3 linked regions of the Homo sapiens genome follow. The protein of the gene in region 2 interacts with the protein of the main gene of each other region in a biochemical or structural test. Each region holds a gene or a part of one and is shown on either strand. Other genes may lie near its edges.

Region 1 (6,838 bases), on a different chromosome or scaffold from region 2:
GCCTCCTCTAGGACTTGTGTTTCACACACGCACCAGCGGCCCTCCCAGCGCAGAGCTCCCTGCCCCCACTGATAGCACCTATATCCCCACTTCCCCTGCTCTCCTGATCGCCTGTTTTCTTGGCAGTTCCTATAGAAGAGCAGCGTGGGGACTACGACCTGAATGCTGTGCGGCTCTGCTTCCAGGTGACAGTGCGGGACCCATCAGGCAGGCCCCTCCGCCTGCCGCCTGTCCTTTCTCATCCCATCTTTGACAATCGTGAGTAGCGAGGGAGACGCAGGAAGGGGAGAGGGTGGGCCTGAATAGGAGGAAGGGGGTTGGGGTGAGTGTGGCCTGCAAGAGGCGCTCTGGCTTCATTCAATCATCTTGCGTATTTGTCTACTCTTCTCTGCCCAGCTCTTTGTTGGCTGGGGAGAGAGGGCAAAGAAGACCCAGAGCTGTCCTTGAGGTGTAGCTCTGGCCTGGCAGGAAGTCTAGCAGAGAGTCTGATGGGAGATGGGCATTTTCAGTATTGTGTGATGAGAAGGTGGTGTGCCCACAACTGCGATAATGACTCTAGGAAATGAACTCCCAGGAACAAGATAGTGTTCGAGAATGATGATTCAGTGATGGAAGCCCACAGATGAATTGGGCTGACTGATCAGCTGCAGTCTTTAGTTAAGTAACCAGCAGGATGAATGGAAATAAAACGAATCTGGAGCCCCAAGGATGGGAAACCAGGATAAACTGGGGGTCAGGAGGGAAGGGCTCATTGCCAAGGTGGGTATGGACTGGCCTTAAAGATTGCTTTGGTCAGGTGGAGAAAGAGTGTGATCAGATTGGCACCCACTGGACTATAAGCTCCGGGAGAGCAGAGAGGTTTGGGTTTTGTGTGTGGTCGTATTCTTGCTTAGATCAGTGTTGAGTGCACAGTAGGCAAATACTTGTTGAATCGGTTGGGGTGAGGAGCTAATAAGAAGGTCTGACTTTGGCTACAAAGGTGTAGGTGGCAAGCTCTGGGCAACCTTGACTCTGGGCTGGGCAGGGAAGTTGCATCTCCTGCAGGCCACCCTGGGGACCTCTCGTGGCTCAGGTCATCCTCCCTTGTTTTCACTGCCTCAGGTGCCCCCAACACTGCCGAGCTCAAGATCTGCCGAGTGAACCGAAACTCTGGCAGCTGCCTCGGTGGGGATGAGATCTTCCTACTGTGTGACAAGGTGCAGAAAGGTATACATCAGGAGGCAGGGGTGGGCTCTTGGGAGCAAGGGGTGAAGCTGAGCAGAGAAGTGGAGTGTCAGGTAACTGGCTTTGGATACTTCCTCCTGTGCCTCGGGGGCCTCAGGTGGGCCGAAGGGTGATGTATCAGAAGACAAGCATCAGAAGTTGAGGGGGAGACCATGGAGGGTTAGACACACTGACCCACACTGCCACCGCATCTCCTGCAGAGGACATTGAGGTGTATTTCACGGGACCAGGCTGGGAGGCCCGAGGCTCCTTTTCGCAAGCTGATGTGCACCGACAAGTGGCCATTGTGTTCCGGACCCCTCCCTACGCAGACCCCAGCCTGCAGGCTCCTGTGCGTGTCTCCATGCAGCTGCGGCGGCCTTCCGACCGGGAGCTCAGTGAGCCCATGGAATTCCAGTACCTGCCAGATACAGGTACACAGCTGGGGTGGCAGCATCAGGGCAGCTGGGCTCTGTGCCGTGAGAGAGAGGCCAAGACTGCATGTCTGGGGCTGTGGTTGAGGGCCAGAAGCTGGAGTCAGAGCTTGGGATCCAAGAAACTGGAATCCATTTCTTGCCTCATTTAATAATAATGATACCTCAGACATTGAGCTAGTACTACACATCTGCCCCTATTCCAGGCACTTCACTGGATTACCTGATTTTAATCTCATGACCCTTTTGAAGTAGGAGATAGTGTCCAACTTGCCTGGGTTCACGTGGCTAGTAAGTAGCAGAGTCTAGCAGAGTCAGCGTTGGAACCCAGGCCATCTGGCTTCAGGATCCTTTTGCCACACTGGTTGTCTTGTCACTACCATACAGCCCAGCCACATTTTGGTCGAGGTTTGAGTGTCCACTTGGTACCAGGGCCTGTGCCAGGTATTGTGAATACAAAAAATGAGTAAGACATGCTCCCTGCCCTTCAGAGTCTCAGTCACTTGAGGAAGACAAATGTGCAAAACAGATCCTTAAGTCACGGAATGACATGTGAAATGGAGGTGTGCGCAGAGAAGCACGGGGGCACAGTGGCCTCCGGGGAGCTGGAGACAGCTGCATGGAGAAGGTGGCATTGAAGCTGGAGAAAGACACAGAAGTGTGTTCTCCAGGCAGGTGGCCCAGCACCTGGAAGGGAAGGGGTGTTGGCAACTGCACGGCCTATTCAGGGCCACCTTCGTGGTTTGAGCTGATGTTGGGCAGTGAGCAGGCTCAGAGATTGGAGGGCCTGGTTAAGCTGAAGGCCTCTAAGCAGAGAGGTGACAGGAGCAGATTTGGAAGTTGACTCAGGAGGCCACGTGTAGAAGATCAGAGACAGACAGACTCAAAGCAGGGAGGCCATTCTGGAAATGTTGCTGTAGTCCAGGAAGAGAAGATGCGGCACAAACCTTACAGAAGGAATAGCAGAGCAAGATCACATCTCCACCACTGTCCTCAGTTACCCTTCAGCCCTGCAGCCGTTTTGCGTCTTACAGACCAAGCTCAGTCTCACCTCAGGACCTGTGTCTAGCTGTTGCCTCTGCTTGGAATGCCCAAGGTTTTAATGCAAGTGGCTCATGCCAGTCCTTCCCTGACCTCTAAATTAGCCCTTCCCTCTACATTTAGACTGTCCTGACCTCACTTCCAGTATTGTTACATCACCATATCGTCCCTGGACCACCGTCACTTGAGATTTTCTGGTTTGGTTTTGTTTGTTTGTTTGAGACAGAGTCTCACTCTTGTCGCCCAGGCTGGAGTGCAGTGGTGCAATCTCGGCTCACTGCAACCTCCACCTCCCGGGTTCAAGTGATTCTCCCTGCCTCAGCCTCCCGAGTAGCTGGGACTACAGGCGCCCGCCACCACATCCGGCTAATTTTTTGTATTTTTAGTAGAGACGGGGTTTTCACCATGTTGGCCAGGGTGGTCTCGATCTCTTGACCTCGTGATCCACCCGCCTCGACCTCCCAAAGTGCTGGGATTACAGGCGTGAGCCACCACGCCTGGCCGAGATTTTCTGGTTTGTATATATGATTGTGTCCCTCTCACTTTTTCACTAGGATGCCAACTTTTTGGGAGCAGACACCTTGTGTGCATACTCACGGCCACATCCCCAGTGTCTAGAAGGGAGGCTGGCACATAGTAGGTGCTTGATAAATATATGTCAAGTTACTGGCGGGGAGTGAGAGAAAAGAAGATAATCATTCCAAGGTTTCTAGCTTTGGTGACAGGGCAGATGGCGGATGGTCAGGGAATGCAGGAGAAAGAACCTAGTTTTTGAGGGATGATGAGGTTGTCTTTGAATTGATGGAATTGAAGTGCTTTGGAGCTACTGAAATACCACTGTAATTAGAAAGACAGTTCTGAAAGCTCTGACTAAAATATGAAACCATTAGAGATAAGAATAAGAGTCTCTGCTGAAGTCTTAAGGCAGTTGTGCCTCAGCTGCCCCAGAGTGCCAAGAAATTCTCGCCAGGCCTGGGTGGAGGCTGACAATGAGCCAGGATGTGAGCAGTGCAGGAAGGTGTGAGCTGGAGGCTGGGGCCCCCCAGGTCTCCTCTTTGCCCAGAGCATGGCCCCTGTACTCGGCCTCACCATGTGGTCTTAGAGGGGCAGATTCAGCCAACAGAGGCCTCCAAAAGCTGTGGGATTCTCAGAACTGCTGAGTGTCACACATCCCTTCTCATTGGCAGAGAAGGTTGGGAGAATGGGTCTTGGGAAAGCCTGGCTCCTCCCCTTCCTCCTGAGGGACCTTTGAGAGCGTCGGGGACCCACCTGAGGAGAGCAAGTCCCACTTCTCCCCCTTACTTTCCCAGACGATCGTCACCGGATTGAGGAGAAACGTAAAAGGACATATGAGACCTTCAAGAGCATCATGAAGAAGAGTCCTTTCAGCGGTGAGATGGGGACTGGGAAAGCCAGAGAGGAAGGCAGCGGGCAGGGAGGGGACACCCTGGGGCTGAGAACTGACCTAGCCCTTGCCCTACAGGACCCACCGACCCCCGGCCTCCACCTCGACGCATTGCTGTGCCTTCCCGCAGCTCAGCTTCTGTCCCCAAGCCAGGTAAGGATTTCCTTTTGTCCCACTGGAACGACAGGTTCAGCTCTGTTCAGCTGAGGAGCAGTGGAGATGAAGACTCCTGGGCCCCATTACAGACCTACTGAATCAGAGGCTTTGAAAGGATGGCGCAGGAACCAGCGACTTCCTGGGATGCTAATGCACACTGAAGCCTGGGAACCACCGTGCCACTTAAATTCTATATTGGGTATCTTGGGAATCAGAAGTTAAAAATGCAGAATCTCTGCTCTCATCTCTCACTTGAATTGGGGGAACAAAAATCACCTCTAAATTAGCAAGATGTGTGTGCCTGTGCGAGGCTCAAAAACTGACAAGCTCTGCACTTCAGGCCGCTGCTCACTTGGTGCTCCATGGGCTCATTGCCTCTCAGGACTTAGTTTTTCAGCTGTAAACTGAGGAGTCCAGCTTATCTCTCCAAGTGTCCCTTCCTCTAAAAGGCTGGAAGAGTTTCGTGGGCTTGAGTAGTCAGGGAGGACTCCAAGGTGGAGGTGTGGCTAGAACTGGACCCTACAGGCTGGGTCAGATGGGGTAAGAGGAAGGAGATAGGGTGTTGGCAGTGACTCCCTAGAGAGGGATTGAGCCTGAGCACCATGAAGAGGGGCTGGGGTACAGAGGACGGGGTGGATCTCTAGGGCTTTCTCTGACCCCTGCCTCTCTGTCTCTCTCCTCCAGCACCCCAGCCCTATCCCTTTACGTCATCCCTGAGCACCATCAACTATGATGAGTTTCCCACCATGGTGTTTCCTTCTGGGCAGATCAGCCAGGCCTCGGCCTTGGCCCCGGCCCCTCCCCAAGTCCTGCCCCAGGCTCCAGCCCCTGCCCCTGCTCCAGCCATGGTATCAGCTCTGGCCCAGGCCCCAGCCCCTGTCCCAGTCCTAGCCCCAGGCCCTCCTCAGGCTGTGGCCCCACCTGCCCCCAAGCCCACCCAGGCTGGGGAAGGAACGCTGTCAGAGGCCCTGCTGCAGCTGCAGTTTGATGATGAAGACCTGGGGGCCTTGCTTGGCAACAGCACAGACCCAGCTGTGTTCACAGACCTGGCATCCGTCGACAACTCCGAGTTTCAGCAGCTGCTGAACCAGGGCATACCTGTGGCCCCCCACACAACTGAGCCCATGCTGATGGAGTACCCTGAGGCTATAACTCGCCTAGTGACAGGGGCCCAGAGGCCCCCCGACCCAGCTCCTGCTCCACTGGGGGCCCCGGGGCTCCCCAATGGCCTCCTTTCAGGAGATGAAGACTTCTCCTCCATTGCGGACATGGACTTCTCAGCCCTGCTGAGTCAGATCAGCTCCTAAGGGGGTGACGCCTGCCCTCCCCAGAGCACTGGGTTGCAGGGGATTGAAGCCCTCCAAAAGCACTTACGGATTCTGGTGGGGTGTGTTCCAACTGCCCCCAACTTTGTGGATGTCTTCCTTGGAGGGGGGAGCCATATTTTATTCTTTTATTGTCAGTATCTGTATCTCTCTCTCTTTTTGGAGGTGCTTAAGCAGAAGCATTAACTTCTCTGGAAAGGGGGGAGCTGGGGAAACTCAAACTTTTCCCCTGTCCTGATGGTCAGCTCCCTTCTCTGTAGGGAACTCTGGGGTCCCCCATCCCCATCCTCCAGCTTCTGGTACTCTCCTAGAGACAGAAGCAGGCTGGAGGTAAGGCCTTTGAGCCCACAAAGCCTTATCAAGTGTCTTCCATCATGGATTCATTACAGCTTAATCAAAATAACGCCCCAGATACCAGCCCCTGTATGGCACTGGCATTGTCCCTGTGCCTAACACCAGCGTTTGAGGGGCTGGCCTTCCTGCCCTACAGAGGTCTCTGCCGGCTCTTTCCTTGCTCAACCATGGCTGAAGGAAACCAGTGCAACAGCACTGGCTCTCTCCAGGATCCAGAAGGGGTTTGGTCTGGGACTTCCTTGCTCTCCCTCTTCTCAAGTGCCTTAATAGTAGGGTAAGTTGTTAAGAGTGGGGGAGAGCAGGCTGGCAGCTCTCCAGTCAGGAGGCATAGTTTTTACTGAACAATCAAAGCACTTGGACTCTTGCTCTTTCTACTCTGAACTAATAAATCTGTTGCCAAGCTGGCTAGAGATCCGCTTTTTTTCAGCAAACACTGAGCACACATTTTGCTAGTCACATCAGGCCAGACATTGGTGGTAGAGAGCTGGGTGAATGCGTGCACTGTCCTCTGAGAGCTTGCAGTCTGAGAATGCCCTTGGAAACCCCGAGTTACCGTCCAGTGGATGAAAACGGGCAGCTAAGGCAAGAGTCCTAGCACACTGAGAGCCTAGTAGAGCCCGCTGGCTGTGGGGATGGAGCAGTTTCAGGAGTCTTCCAAGAGGCCCCATTAGCTCCAGGTCTTAGATCAGCTGAGAGTGGATGTCAAAGAGGGACTAGCCAGCGTCAGAGGTAAGAGAAACGATGTTCGAAAGATGTGATGGGGCCAAATTCCTTGGGTGGCCCAGGGAGTGTGTGCTTCTCTTGGGGAATGTGTGGTGCCAGGTAAAGATCTACCCGGCCCACCGATGCTTTGATACTCTGTTCTGGGAGGAACGGTGAAATCTTCAATCCACAGCCTCAGGAAGCCAAAACAAAGGCCC
Region 2 (6,947 bases):
GCTCTCCCAATGGCTTTGCCATCTTTGGGTGTAGATTCCCCCAACTCCACTCCAGGGTTCATTCTGGATCCCTGGCCTCTTGGGAGGAGGCGGACTCTGTCCTGCCCTGGCACAGAGATGGTACCACAGGGGACTGCAGGATGCTTAACTGGTGCCTCCCAAGGCCTGGGCATTTTCCTGACCCCAGTCGGGCCGGCGTCTGGCAGATGAAATCCAGGTGCCCCCTGCAGGCTGGCCTGGCTACTGCCCCTGCCCCTGCCCCACCCTTCTAAGAGGGCAAATTTTGTCTAACTCCATCCTCTCAGAATCAGAGCGCCTCAAAGCAAAGAGGGACTTCCTTCCTCATCTTATTTCCTTCTCTGGGAGCCTCTGGGAGGAAGTACAGCTTCGGGCGTTTCTCAACGTGTGACATAGTCCCATTGGCAGAACATGACATGATTTTCGGGATGTTTCATTTATCTAGTTACACTGTATTTAATGCGTATCAGAGAAAATATAACTGGCATGGCAATCCCATGATTTCATTTATATTATTGTTTAGAATGAGCTCCAAGTTTACATCTGAACACAAGTGAGTAAAACTTTTATTATTTTAAATTAAGAAAATATGATAGAGTAAAAATCTGGGAGGCTGCTGAAAAATGTCAAAGTCGGGGAATTCTGGGGTCCAAGAAGTTTGCTGGTAGATGGATCTGGATGTGAATCCTGCCTCTGTGACATCATCTATGTCATGGATGTCATTTCTACCAGAGGGCTCCTTTGGAAAATTTGGATAACAGCCCGTTATGAAAGTCACCAGAGTAGGTATCTCTATCCGCCTGGCCATTTAGCCTGTGGCACAGCCTAGATGCCCAATAAATAGTAGCTCTATTTTACCATGATCATTCATTCCTGGGTGTCTGACCTGTGCTCTGAGAGAATCAGTGGTTCCTTCCAGAGCCTCTGATCTTTTTCTTGGGATCCTTTTTCTTGTGTGGCTTTCCACCCCCCACCACATGTGTCTGATAGCCTTGAAGGTTTTCCAGGACTGTCATCTCCCCAACTTTCAACTGAGCTACCGCAATATATAGCTGCCTGCCTCTACCTTCCACCTCCCAGCTGGCCTCACCTGCTGGGGGCCTGACTCCTCCCCCCCCGGCCAAGTCCCCTCCAAGCTCATGCCCAGACCTTTTTTGGACACTACCCACCTGCTCCTCTGTCATCAGGCACTCAGCTACAGGCATTTCCCTCCCCAGCCCCCACCCATTGGTGACATGTCAGGCCTCTTCATGATCGCTCTGTGACTCTGAGTTCTGCTATTTGAATCCGTATGGGAATAAAGTTCCCTGGCTTTCATACCTTTCTGGGAGGGGGCATTCAGGAAACTCAGATGCTGGGGTTTGAGACCAAAAACTGGCCTTCCTTTTCGACCAATAGTTCCGACTATTTCTGGGTAAGTGGACAGGGGATCCCAGCTGCCTTCCAGCTTTCAGACTGGAGTGACAACAATTTAAGAGCTGTAAAAATTGGGAATGGGGTTCAAGACCATTTCTGATGGTATTTCCAGATAGAGAATCTCTTTCTCTGGCTGGCTGGAAAAGACCAACCTAATGTGTGGGCAAGTGGGTGAAACAGGTCTCTCTCTGGCTGAGCCCTGGGAATGATCAGAATCACTAGACGTCAAAGCAAATCACTAGACGTCACCCATTACTCTCTTTGACTGCCTCCTCCTCCCCAGTGCTCTTTCTGACCATCTCAGTTAGAACCGAATGAACCTCGCTAAACCCAGACACTTTTCATCCCAAGCCAGGAGTGGTGGAAGAAGCCCCAGGGACTGGGTGAATGACGGAGCCTCAGTTGTGAAACGACCATTTATTGAGGGGCCCTCCATGGAGCCTAGAGCTCACTGCAAGACAGGAAATGAGAGGGGGCTCTGCCACCACCCCCTTACCCCAACGCAGGAAAGAGGATGCAATGAATCCCAACAAGACCAGCTCAAACTTGGCTTTGGAAGCACTGAAGCAATTCTCTACGTTCATAAACAGTCTGCTACCCCAGCCAGGGACAGACGCTTGCTTGGAGGACGGAGCACAAGCAGAGCAGCAGAATGACAGAGTGACAGGATGAGAGAGGCAGAGGGACCCAGAAAGATCCTGTCCCCCATGCCAAGTGACACAGAAGAAAAAAATAATGCTGGAGGTGGCTCTGGGAAATGTTCAGGGGGCAGGATGGGTTTGGAAGGGGGGGCTGTGCTAAGGTGAAGAGGGAAAGGGCAGGAGAAAGATGGCGGGGGCTGGAGGGGGGAGGGGTGTGGTCAGCAAGTGGCCAAGGTCCCTGCGCGGTGGAGGCAGACAGACCTCATCGCATTCCCAAACTGGTAGAAACCTGGGTCGGGGTCAGGCAGAGGATCCCATAGGTGAGAGAGGTGAGTGAGGAAGTGGGGGGATTAGAATCTGGGAAGAGGGGCCAGGAAAGGAGGGGGTAGGCTGGTGACAGGGGCCCATGTGGGGCCCCAGCGGTCATACGTGCCATGGTTGGCAGTGACAGCTGGGGGGGAGCACGGTCTTTGCAGCATGGGGCGGCCCTAGGGGAAGGGGACCCCTACAGGGGGTACTCTGCGGGCCCGCGGGCCCCAGCCTTGGACAGGCCGGGGCAAGGGGCGCTGGGGGGTAGGCAGAGAGGATGAGGGGCCCCGTAGGGGGAGGGGCCAGGCGATGATGGACAAGGCCAGGGCTGGCAGCGCAGGGCCAAGATCGGGGTCACAGCCCGGGCACTCACCGCTCTCCTGCTCGCTGCCCTTCTTGGCGGCGGCGGCGTTGCCCATCGCGGCGGCGGCGGCCGGGGCCGGTCCCGGAGCTGCGGCGCGGCGGGTGCTGGCTGCGGCCGGCGGCCCCGGAGCGCGCTGGGCGGCGGCGGCGGCGGCCCTCGGGCTGGCTGCGCTAGCTGCGGCGCCGCGACCCCCGCCCAGCCCCTGCTTCCCGCGTCTCTCCGCGCCCGCCCGCCCGGGAACCTCAGCCCAAGATCTCTGCCGCTGTCTGTGACGCCCCCGCAGCCCGCCGCTCATTGGCCTAGGCCGCCCTGACTGACGGCTCAGCGCCGCCTCCCATTGGCCCTCCCGCGACCTTCCCGCGCCACTATAGGCTCTCAGCCTCGGGACACGCACCGCGGACTCTCGGCCATTCACTCGCTCGCGAGGCCGCAGCTGGGCGGGCAGACGCGTCCGATTGGCCGAGACGCTGGACTGGGCCCGGGGTCCGCCCTGCGAGGCCGCCGATTGGCGGAGGTGCCGGGTCCGCCAAGCCCCCCAGCAGAACGCTCAGTGTCAATCCGGGGGTGAGAGGGCGGGGCGGAGACGCAGTCTGCGGGCCCGGGCCGGCGGGGCGGGGCGGCGGAGGCTGGCTGGCGGCCGCGCAGCGCTCCGAGGCTCAGGAGGCGGCCCCGGCGGGCGCCCGGCCGGCCCCGCGCGCGCCGCAGTCCCCCGCCCCCGCTCAGTGCGGCAGCGGCTGTCGGCCAGCCGGAGTTGGCGCCGCGGCCTGCCCGGCGCAGCCGCTGTCCACCTGCCAGCGGGGGAGGGGCGCGGCCGGCGCGCGGGTCAGAGGTCGCCCGGCCGCCGCCGGCGTCATTCATAAGGCCTGGCGCTGGGCGGCCGAGGCCAGGCCTGCTTGGGGGCCAGGCCGCGGGGCCTCCTGGGTTTTCCCAGCCGCACTCAGGAGGATGCCGGGCCCGGCGCAAGGGGTGGCTGGGAAGGGGCGCTCAGTGTCCACCCCTTTGCTGGGCCCTAGCCCTGGGCTCCTGCCAGTAGTAAGAGCTGGCACCCACTTAACGCTCCTTCGCACCACACTCCCATCGCGTAGGTGCTACCATCATCACTCCCATTGCACAGATGAGGAATCTGGGGTACAGCCAGGCAGATTCCCTGCTCCTGTTCCCCGTCTGTATTTCCTGTCTGGGCAATGCGAAGGGAACCTGCCCCTTCCTTCAGGATCCTCTTTCAGTACACACTTAGCAGAGGACAGTCGGGGTTTCCCAACTGCGACACTACTGACGGTGAGGCTGGATCATTTTCTGCTGGGGGGTGTCTTGTGCACCACTGGGTGTTGAGCAACATCCCCCGCCTCTACCCACTGGATGCCAGTAGCCCCTCCTCTATCTTCCTGCTGGCTGTGGCAACCGCTGTCTCCTGACATTGGTGAATGTGCTCTTGCGGGGCCGAACTGCTCCTGATTGAGAAGCACTTAAGAGAGGGTCAGGGGAGGGGAGAAGCCAGGTCACCCCGACTCGGAAGGGCTAGCTGGGCTTAACTACAAGCCGATCTGCTGCTTCGACTTGAATAGCCTCCACCTTCTCCAGCTGCTGTCTGCCCCCATGTTCCCAGATCAACCACAGTTCCAGGGAGGGAGAGTCAGAGCCTTTCTGTGAACTATGGGGAAATGGCTGACCACTCCGCCTCTGGATGGATAGATACATGGTAAGGTTTAGTAAAATTTAATAAAAGCATTGCTGTTTGTGTGTTGGGATCACGATGTTAATTTCCTGTGGGTCAAGGGCAAAGTCTGAAAAATCACTCATTATAATCTATCTGCAGGACAGCTGGTTTAAGTTTTGACAAAGAAAAACCCCTCCTGGAACCTCAGTCTGGAATACAACTGTAGAACCAATTAAGACTGGAGTAGGAAGCTGGAAAGAAGACGTGGGACAGCCAACCCACTGGACAGGGCAAGAGGCCACTTCTGGGGGAGAGTGGACAAAGTTGCTTCAGTCCACCAGAGACAAAAGCACAAACAATCATTCTAAATGAAGTGCTTTTAATTTTCAGACCAAACATTTTTAATATAAAAACATTTTGATAATATACAAACAGCAATCACAACAGCATCCACATGGCAGCAAGGGGACCAGGGCACAGAGAGGGGGAGCGGGCTGGGGAGGGACAGTTTTCAGGGTCCCAGTTGCTTCCCTGGCTTGAAATCACCCTGGTCCTAGCAGAGGACAGGTTAAGGCTGCCAGAGGCAGAGGGTCCCTGACCCTGGCCCGGAGACAGACTGCCCAGGCAGGCCCTCTGATACCATCTTCCAACCATGGCAGCCTCCAGGAAAAGCCAGATCCATTTAGGAGATAACAGGAAGGTGGCTGTGATTGACAGGAAAGGCAACATGGTTCCTCAGCATCCTGCTGATCACACCTCTGGGAGGGGCTGCTGGATTGAAGAGGACCTAAGAATCTTCCTGGGAGCAGGACAGAAATGGGATCTAAGTCTACCTACTAACTAACATTCCCGCCTGTGACACCAGAAAGCTGGAGTGGGTCTGCTCAGATGTACAGGAAGAGAAAGGAATGACAAAGCCTTTGGCTCAGCAGGACTGGAGCCTTGACAGGCACTGACCAAGAAAGCCTCTAGGTGGGCCAGGGAGGTCTGTGGGAAAGCTTTGGATCAATGGTACTCAAGGGTGCACAGTGGCACAGTGGCCTTAGTTAGAATTTATGAAGACGAAAAGAACACAAGTCAGAATTTAGAACTGAAGTACCTGCTTCTTATAGGCCTGTAGAGGAAAAGCGAGATCATCCTTCTGGCCAGGACTAGGGGAGACCCAAGGCCTGTTCTTTCCTAGGGGCTGAGTTTGACAGACCTGGATTGCAGCTGATGGCCCCCAAAGTCCTCTAGATGGGCCCTGCAGGACTCGCTGGGAGGCCTGGTTGCCCCTCCCGGCGTGCTGGGACACTCTGGGTTCCTGCAGTTAGATGCAGTCCATGGAGTTCTCAGGGAGGAGGCCAGGGATGCAGCCAGGGAGCCCCAAGCCCTTGATAGGAGTGCAGTTGAGTGGGAGGCCGCAGCCCAGGGAGGGGTCCTGGGTCTCTATGGCCTCCAGCCTGTCCATGTTGTTGTCCCAGTTGATATGGAAGCGGGTCACCCGGGGGTTCGAGGCCAAGATGTTCCGCTGGAGCTGGGGCAGGAAGAGGAACGTCAACCCTTGTAGGTACGCCCTCTCCTTGGTCCCATAGAGCCAGGACACCCCCAATCACCCATCTCAAGCCCAGCAAGAGCAACCTACATATGGAACTCCAGAAAACACCTGTGGCCAGGACCTTATTTATTTATTTATTTATTTATTTTTTGAGACGGAGTTTTGCTTTTGTTGCCCAGGCTGGAGTGCAATGCTGTGATCTCGTCTCACTGCAACCTCTGCCTTCCGGGTTCAAGCGATTCTCTTGCCTCAGCCTCCTGTGTAGCTGGGACTACAGGTGCAAGGCACCATACCTGGCTCATTTTCGTATTTTTAGTAGAGACGGGCTTTCACCATGTTGGCCAGGCTGGTCTCAAACTCCTGACCTCAGGTGATCCTACAGCCTCGGCCTCCCAAAGTGCTGGGATTACAACGCGTGAGCCACTGTGCCTGGCCCAGGACTTTTTTTTTTTAAGGGACAGTCTCACTCTGTTGGTCAGGCTGGAATGCAGTGGCACGATCTGAGCTCACTGCAGCCTCAAACTCCTGGGCTCAAGCGATCCTCCCACCTCAGCCTCCAGAGTAGAGCACACCACCCATGTCTGGCTCATTTTTTTTTTTTTTTTTTTTTGCGGGGGTTAGGGACAGGGTCTCACTATGTTGCCCAGGCTGGCCTAATCTTAATTCTCTAAGACATGCCTTTGAGAGACAAAGGTCTTTTTCTCCTCTTCTAACACAGTACTGTAAGAACTGAATATTACTTGAAAACCTTAAGAAGTGACCTTGACTCTCAATTTGAATGGCTGAACTCCCCCCAAGTATAAAGAACGGCCTTGTGGGAAGCAGGAAGTGGAAACAGGCCCCACCTGGGAGAAATCTGGCTTCATGGGCGGGTTCTCACGCAGCTCAGGGTTGAGGTACTCGTTGTTGACGTAGTAGCCCACTCGGATGAACTCCTGTCCATGGTAGGTGCAGGTGATGAGGACCACAGTCACACCCACGGCATCAGTCTCTGGGATGAGGGAT
Region 3 (7,627 bases), on a different chromosome or scaffold from region 2:
AAAATATTCTTCTGAGACAGGGCTTTTATCATATTGCCATAGGGTGCCACGATATAAAAAAGGTTAAATACTCTCTGATTCAGAAGTATCCAATGATGACTTCTCTCTCATGCATTTAATTGAAAATCTGGTTTTTCTCCTTCTCTGCTAGTTCTCTACCTCTCTCCCCACCTCCCACATCATAGCCTATTCACATATGTCTGAATCTCATGATAGACAAGTTCAGGTTCTTTTCCCAGGTTCTTTTTACCACATCCCCCCACCCCCACATAAAAAGTATATATGGCACAGCCTAGGTTCCACCCAAATCCTTTCTCCTCTTCTTCCTGGGCCCACAACTCTCCTACATACATTGGTATACCTTGCGCTTAGGGATGGCCATGTGACTAAGTTCTAACAGTGGAACATGATCAGATGCCACTTCCAGCCTCTAAGACAGCCAGTGTGTTTCCTCCATAAGCTCCTTCTCTTCCTCCCAACTGGAGACTCTAAATGATGACCCTGCCTCAAGCAAGCAAACAACAAGTCCCTCAGGGGTGGTGTAGGCTGCAAATGGAAGGAGCTTGAGTCCCAAACCTTCCACGGAGAAGGCTGGCTACCAACCTGGATCACTCACCCAAGACTGCTCGAAGAGTTGGTTTGAACCATTGTGTTTTGGGGTCTATTTATTACAACAGTTTAGCTTGCTTTGTGAATAGATTTAGTGGCAGAGCCTCCAAATTCTATAGATACATTGATCTCAGTCCTAACCGCATCTGGAACACCATTAAATAAAGGAATTGCAAACCCAGAGAAGGTAATGAATTTGTCTAAGGTCATACAAGATGGCTAGGATCAGGACCCAACTCTCCAGTTTTCTTTCTTCTCTGCTATTCTGCCTTCTGTGATCCTACATAAGTGGGCATGATTGTATAACATATGCGGCCATGAGATTTCTCTTTCAGCAAGAGAAAGGGACAGGAAGAAAGAGAGGGAATGCATTTTCTTGGCCTGAATTAGTGTGAGCCATTAGTTACCTACATTGACTAAATTATCTGGAATGAACATTCAACTCTACATCACATATAGTTAAAATGACAGATCTGCTTAAGATTGTTTCTAGCATACGTTATTTCAATTTAGGCAAATGTGACCATTCAGTGTGAGGGGACCATACTGTCATTAGGTCCCTGTCAGTTCTCAATTATACTGTTATCTTAGAGGGGGAAAAATGTGAAATTTGAATGTAGACGAGTGTTGATTTGACTGCTACAGTTTATTTTACGTATAGAAATAAAATAATGTGTAGCAAAAGCATTATTACAAAGATGATAATGAAATAACTAGTATTTATAATAGTATAATAGTATAGTATTTATAATAGTATGATAGTTTAATGACTATTTGTCAGATGTTGTGTAAGAAACTTTATACACACACACACACACACCTCATTTAATTCCTGTATCAATCAGGATACAGGACGCTGTGGTAACAACTCCTCAAATCTCGGTGGCTTGCACAACAAATGCTTATTTCTTTTTTTTTTTTGACACCAAGTCTTGCTCTGTAACAGGCTGGAGTGCAATGGTGCAATCTCGGCTCACTGCAGCCTCTGCCTCCTGGGTTCAAGCGATTCTCCTGCCTCAGTCTCTCGAGTAGCTGGGAACACAGGCACGCGCCACCACATCTGGCTAATTTTTGTGATTTTAGTAGAGATGGGATTTCACCATGTTGCTCAGGCTGGCCTTGAACTCCTGACCTCAAGCGATCCACCCACCTCAGCCTCCCAAAGTGCTGGGATTACAGGCATGAGCCACTGCGCCCAGCCCCAAATGTTTATTTCTTGCTCATGTGACATGTACTTCCTCGAGTTTTTCCTTCCTGAGATCTAAGCTGAAGGAACAGCTCTCTGGAGCCACGCCATTCTGGTGGCGGAAAGGAAGAGTAAAAGTGGTAGAACCTTGCAATGCTCTTGAAGCGCCTATTTGGAATGTCTACATCATGTAAATGGTAATGGACAAGTATGTATAATCCCCACACCAAAAAAAGGGGACACTATTGGGGACAATAACCACATTTCAATGCTGCAAGACGGATATTGACTGCACCCCCTTCCCACTTTCAGAAAGAAGAAGAGTAATTTTGCTGAACTCCTTCTAGAGACTGGAAATGTCCCTTCCAGTTGGGGTGATTAGGGAAGGCTTTGGTAAAATTTGAGCTAGAGTTTGAAGGTTAGGTAGACTACTGGTGGGTGAAGAAAGAACAAGGACCTTTGTAGGCAAAGGAAAACCTCAGAATTACAGAGGTGGAAAAAGAGTTCTAGTCAAGCCACTTCAGCTGGCTACAGAGTAGGTGGGAAAGAAAATGGGAGGACAAGGGCTCAGATGATGGGGGGTTGGGGCATTGGGGGGACACTTGAAAGCTAAACTAAGGGGTTGAACTTAATTTAGGAGGCAGTTAGAAGCTTTTACATATTTTTGAGCAAGAGAGTGACATAATTAAAATGATCTGGGCCAGGTGTGGTGGCTCACACCTGTAATCCCAGCACTTTGGGAGGCTGAGGAGCTTGGGTCACCTGAGGTCAGGAGATCGAGACCAGCCTGGCCAACATGGTGAAATCCCGTCCTACTAAAAATACAAAAATTAGCCGGGAGTGGTGGCATATGCCTGTAATCCCAGTAGCTGGGAGGCTGAGACAGGAAAATCGCTTGAACCCGGGAAACAGGTTGCAGTGAGCCGAGATCGTGCCACTGCACTCCAGCCTGGGCAACAGAGCGAGACTCCATCTCAAAAAAACAAAACAAACACACACAAAAAACCAAAAATAAATAAATAAAATGATCACTTCTGAATACTGATCTAACTAGGGGTTGCAGGGTGGGCTGATATAGGGAGAAACTGGAGAGCAAGGAGATCACTAAGGTCCCTACATGTCCAGAACCAAGATAGAGGTCTTGAACTAGGATGGTGGCAGTTAGAACAACAACAACAAAAAGTCAATTCCAGGCTGAGTGCAGTGGCTCATGCCTGTAATCCCAACGCTTTGGGAGGCTGAGGTGGGAGTTAGAAAGCAGCCTGGGCAACACTGCAAGACCTCCTCTCTAAAAAAAAAAAAAAAAAAAAGTTAGCCAGGTGTGGTGGTGCCCACCTGTAGTCCCAGCAACTCAGAAGGCTGAGGTGGGAAGATTGCTTGAGCCCCAGGAGTTCAAGCTTGCCGTGAGCTACGATTGTGCCACTGCACTCCAGCCTGAGCAAGACCTTGTCTCCAAAAAAAGGTCAATTCCACTGACTTTTCTAAGGTGTACACCATCAAGGGGCAGCTCCATCTCCAGGCCATTGGCTCATGAGACATTCTGTAGTCAGAAGGCTAGGGCAGATTGCTTTGAGCAAGCCCCCATGGTGGTTCTCACTCCTACTTCTTTGGGTATATGCCCCTCTGTTTAAAAATAAAGTTAATATGCATTTAAAAAAAAAAAGGAGAAAAAGGTCAGTTCCAGAAACTGTGTGAATAAAGCATTTTACTTGCTTTTTCTATTAATCTATAACATATGTTGATTTTTTAAAAAGAATATAAGAGCTATGCAAATTGGAGCTTCAAGACAACTTCCCATCTCCCTAGGAGGAGATGGCTGCCCTAAACCCCCCTACATAGAAATCATCCCACTGCTTGGGCTTAAACTTGATGTTGGGGAAATGAAAAATCCAAGCTAAGGCCGAAGCCTGGGGCCTGGGCGACCAGCAGAATGAGGACCACTGGTCAGTTTCAGGCTGAGGTGCGTCTTCCAGGGGACAATCTCTAGCTGGCCCTTAAACATTCAGACTTCAAGCTCTATTTACAGCATAAAGGTGTTTCAAAAGACGTGATACAAATAACTGCAAATGCTCTGCGATGTGTTAAGCACTGTTTGAAATTCGTCTAATTTAAGATTTTTTTTTCTGACGTAACGGTTAGATTCACGTTTCTTTTTTTTTAAGTACAGTTCTACTGTATTGTAACTGAGTTAGCTTGCTTTAAGCCGATTTGTTAAGGAAAGGATTCACCTTGGTCAGTAACAAAAAAGGTGGGAAAAAAGCAAGGAGAAAGGAAGCAGCCTGGGGGAAAGAGACCTTAGCCAGGGGGGCGGTTTCGGGACTACGAAGGGTCGGGGCGGACGGACTCGAGGGCCGGCCACGTGGAAGGCCGCTCAGGACTTCTGTAGGAGAGGACACCGCCCCAGGCTGACTGAAAGTAAAGGGCAGCGGACCCAGCGGCGGAGCCACTGGCCTTGCCCCGACCCCGCATGGCCCGAAGGAGGACACCCACCCCCGCAACGACACAAAGACTCCAACTACAGGAGGTGGAGAAAGCGCGTGCGCCACGGAACGCGCGTGCGCGCTGCGGTCAGCGCCGCGGCCTGAGGCGTAGCGGGAGGGGGACCGCGAAAGGGCAGCGCCGAGAGGAACGAGCCGGGAGACGCCGGACGGCCGAGCGGCAGGGCGCTCGCGCGCGCCCACTAGTGGCCGGAGGAGAAGGCTCCCGCGGAGGCCGCGCTGCCCGCCCCCTCCCCTGGGGAGGCTCGCGTTCCCGCTGCTCGCGCCTGCGCCGCCCGCCGGCCTCAGGAACGCGCCCTCTTCGCCGGCGCGCGCCCTCGCAGTCACCGCCACCCACCAGCTCCGGCACCAACAGCAGCGCCGCTGCCACCGCCCACCTTCTGCCGCCGCCACCACAGCCACCTTCTCCTCCTCCGCTGTCCTCTCCCGTCCTCGCCTCTGTCGACTATCAGGTAAGCGCCGCGGCTCCGAAATCTGCCTCGCCGTCCGCCTCTGTGCACCCCTGCGCCGCCGCCCCTCGCCCTCCCTCTCCGCAGACTGGGGCTTCGTGCGCCGGGCATCGGTCGGGGCCACCGCAGGGCCCCTCCCTGCCTCCCCTGCTCGGGGGCTGGGGCCAGGGCGGCCTGGAAAGGGACCTGAGCAAGGGATGCACGCACGCGTGAGTGCGCGCGTGTGTGTGTGCTGGAGGGTCTTCACCACCAGATTCGCGCAGACCCCAGGTGGAGGCTGTGCCGGCAGGGTGGGGCGCGGCGGCGGTGACTTGGGGGAGGGGGCTGCCCTTCACTCTCGACTGCAGCCTTTTGCCGCAATGGGCGTGTGTGTGTGTGTGTGTGTGTGTGTGTGTGTGTGTGTGTGTGGAGGGGTCCGATAACGACCCCCGAAACCGAATCTGAAATCCGCTGTCCCTGCCGCTGTTCGCCATCAGCTCTAAGAAAGACGTGGATCGGGTTCTAGAAAAGATGACTCCCTGCACGCCCCTCCCTGCACCTCCCGAGCAGTGATTCCGACAGGGCCTTCACTGCCCCTGATTTTAGGCGGGGGCCGGCCCCCTCCCCTTTTCCTCCTTCAGAAACCCGTAGGGGACATTTGGGGGCTGGGAGAAATCGAGGAGATGGGGAGGGGTCCACGCGCTGTCACTTTAGTTGCCCTTCCCCCTGCGCACGCCTGGCACAGAGACGCGAGCAGCGCCGTGCCTGAGAACAGTGCGCGGATCCCACTGTGCACGCTCGCAAAGGCAGGGTTCACCTGGCCTGGCGATGTGGACGGACTCGGCGGCCGCTGGTCCCCGTTCGCGGGCACGCACAGCCGCAGCCACGCACGGATGGGCGCGGGGCTGCAGGTGCATCTCGGGGCGGATTTCTTTCTCAGCGCTCGGAGCGCAGGGCGCCCGGCGTGTGCGCTCCCTGCCGGAGGCGCGGGGCTGGCGCGCAGGGCTCGCCCCTCACTGCGGCAGTGGGTGTGGACCCTGGTGGGCGAGGAAGGGGGAGGATAGGCTGTGCCTCCTCCCACTCCCGCCCCCAGCCCCCCTTTTTTTCCCCCTCGGAACGCGAGGTGCCATCTTTTTTCGGCGTGTCACGTCTTTACGGTGCCATGCCAAACCGGGTGGCCGGGCTTCATAGGACAGGGCGGGGCCTGGCATTAAAGGGAGGGGGACAATCAGCGCTGAAATCTTGGCGTTTTGCTGCTGCGGGCGTGAGCACTGGGGGCGTTCGCCCAGCACCTTCTTCGGGGGCTCTTTGCTTTGTCTGTAGAGGTTACGTGATCTGCGCTCCCAGCCCTGGTTTCTGGCTTTTATTCTGAGGGTGTTCAGTCAACCTCCCCCCTACGCCCATGCGCCTCTCTTTCCTTTTTCGCTCCTCATTTCCGAGCCCATTGTTGGATCTCGAGGCTTGCTGGGTTCGATGAACTCGAGTCAACCCCCCGACCCCCGGCACGCATGGAACGGGCGTGACCGCGCGCAGCCTCGTCTCGGAGTCTGCCGGCGCCGGGAAGCTTCTGAAGGGATGGGATTCGAGTCTCCGTGCGCGCTGCGGGCGGCGGCAGAGGGATCTCGCCCCTCCCTACACCCCAAGTGTCCTGAGGGCCACGCCACACCAGGTTGCCCAGCGAGGGACGCTGGCTACCCATCCGGGGATGGGTGGGGAGCCCTGGCGGGGCCTCTCCGGCTTTACGCCCTGTTGCTTCGCCTGGCCGGAGAATGTGAGGAAGGGGCATAAGGTTACTGGTGCTTCGGCCACACCCATCTTTCTGAGCCCACTGGACTGGGCGCAGAGGGGGGATTGCCATGGAAACCACAGGTGTCCGGAGAGGGGATCTTGGGGCTGGCCTCACCCCTTCCCTGCGGAGATTGGGGACCCTGGGGTAGGGGGAGCCGCGCCCAGTCGGCCTCCTGGAGGACACGGGAGGAAGCCCCGAACCCCCGCGCCTGAGGCTGTTTCTGATTGGCCCCTGGAGGCCGCAGACACGCAGATAGGCGGCCCTGGGTGTATTTTTATTAATATTATGTCCGTACTGATTAATATTATTTATCTTAAATAAATTTCACCCGTGTCCAAGTTCACCGCGCCCCCAAAACCGAGTCTGGGGCGGCAGGGGGAACTCCTGGCCAACGAATCCATGCCTCGCCCTCCTGTGATGAACCTGGTACGCACGGTTTTCTGGTTAATTCTATCGCTGAAAACTGGTGCGGGGGGCGCACTTCTGAGACGGAAGAGCATCTAGGAGCTGAATCCTCCACGCGGGTCGCCCAGGTTGATCTGAATTTCTGGGGAATGGCTTGGCTGCCCGCCCGGGACCAGGCCGACCCTCCTTGACGGTGGCGTAGAGGGCTGGAGCCTGGGTACTGCGAGGCTCCTCGCATGGCTGGGCCCGCCGCGAGGGGTTGCAGAGCGGCTCAGGGATCGATTCAAGCATCGTCTCTCCTCCCTCGCCCCCAGACAGAGCTGGGCGCGGGGTTCCCCTTCCAGATGGAGCGAGGGTCTCGGGGTGGCCCCGGAAAAGGGGAGCCCGCGGCCACGGCTACGTATTGCCATCTCGCGAGCAGAGATGTCACCTCCTGCCTTTGGAGGAAAGGGAGCCCGGTGGGGATGAGCGCATTTAGCCCAATGCTGGGAACAAAGCGCACTCCGCGCTTCTGCGATTTCGCTCCATTTTGAAATGTGTTGGCGCTTTGGTGGGGCCGCTGCGGTGGGCAAGGCCGGGGGCGCTGTTAATGGAGGAACCTCAGGGGGACGGTCCTTCGTAGGAAACTCTATCCTGGCTCTGCGCGCGCTTTAAGGAAATGGCTTCCCTCCAGGACCTCGAGGGATGCAGCTTTTGCGCGGATGACGGTGGG

Evidence for each region. Proteins that work in one complex are often made in the same cells at the same time.
Region 1: of the proteins of PRKACA (region 2) and RELA, one has a biochemical effect on the other in vitro, tested with the Homo sapiens proteins (4 studies listed by BioGRID and IntAct, with this or other methods).
Region 3: of the proteins of PRKACA (region 2) and MAPT, one has a biochemical effect on the other in vitro, tested with the Homo sapiens proteins (9 studies listed by BioGRID).

What each region holds. Positions count from the first base shown.
Region 1 is NC_000011.10:65,653,086-65,659,923, reverse strand, and holds the end of RELA (transcription factor p65), read left to right. Parts: intron 1-126; coding exon 127-258; intron 259-1,101; coding exon 1,102-1,206; intron 1,207-1,424; coding exon 1,425-1,637; intron 1,638-3,988; coding exon 3,989-4,069; intron 4,070-4,161; coding exon 4,162-4,236; intron 4,237-4,923; coding exon 4,924-5,546; 3' UTR 5,547-6,323; downstream 6,324-6,838. UniProt on the Homo sapiens protein: NF-kappa-B is a pleiotropic transcription factor present in almost all cell types and is the endpoint of a series of signal transduction events that are initiated by a vast array of stimuli related to many biological processes such as inflammation, immunity, differentiation, cell growth, tumorigenesis and apoptosis.
Region 2 is NC_000019.10:14,114,745-14,121,691, forward strand, and holds the start of PRKACA (cAMP-dependent protein kinase catalytic subunit alpha), read right to left. Parts: upstream 3,019-6,947; 5' UTR 2,804-3,018; coding exon 2,758-2,803; intron 1-2,757. Other genes in the region: histone chaperone ASF1B, read right to left, coding at 5,715-5,921, 6,788-6,947.
Region 3 is NC_000017.11:45,889,942-45,897,568, forward strand, and holds the start of MAPT (microtubule-associated protein tau), read left to right. Parts: upstream 1-4,612; 5' UTR 4,613-4,745; intron 4,746-5,538; exon of another isoform or gene 5,539-5,572; intron 5,573-5,841; exon of another isoform or gene 5,842-7,627. UniProt on the Homo sapiens protein: Promotes microtubule assembly and stability, and might be involved in the establishment and maintenance of neuronal polarity.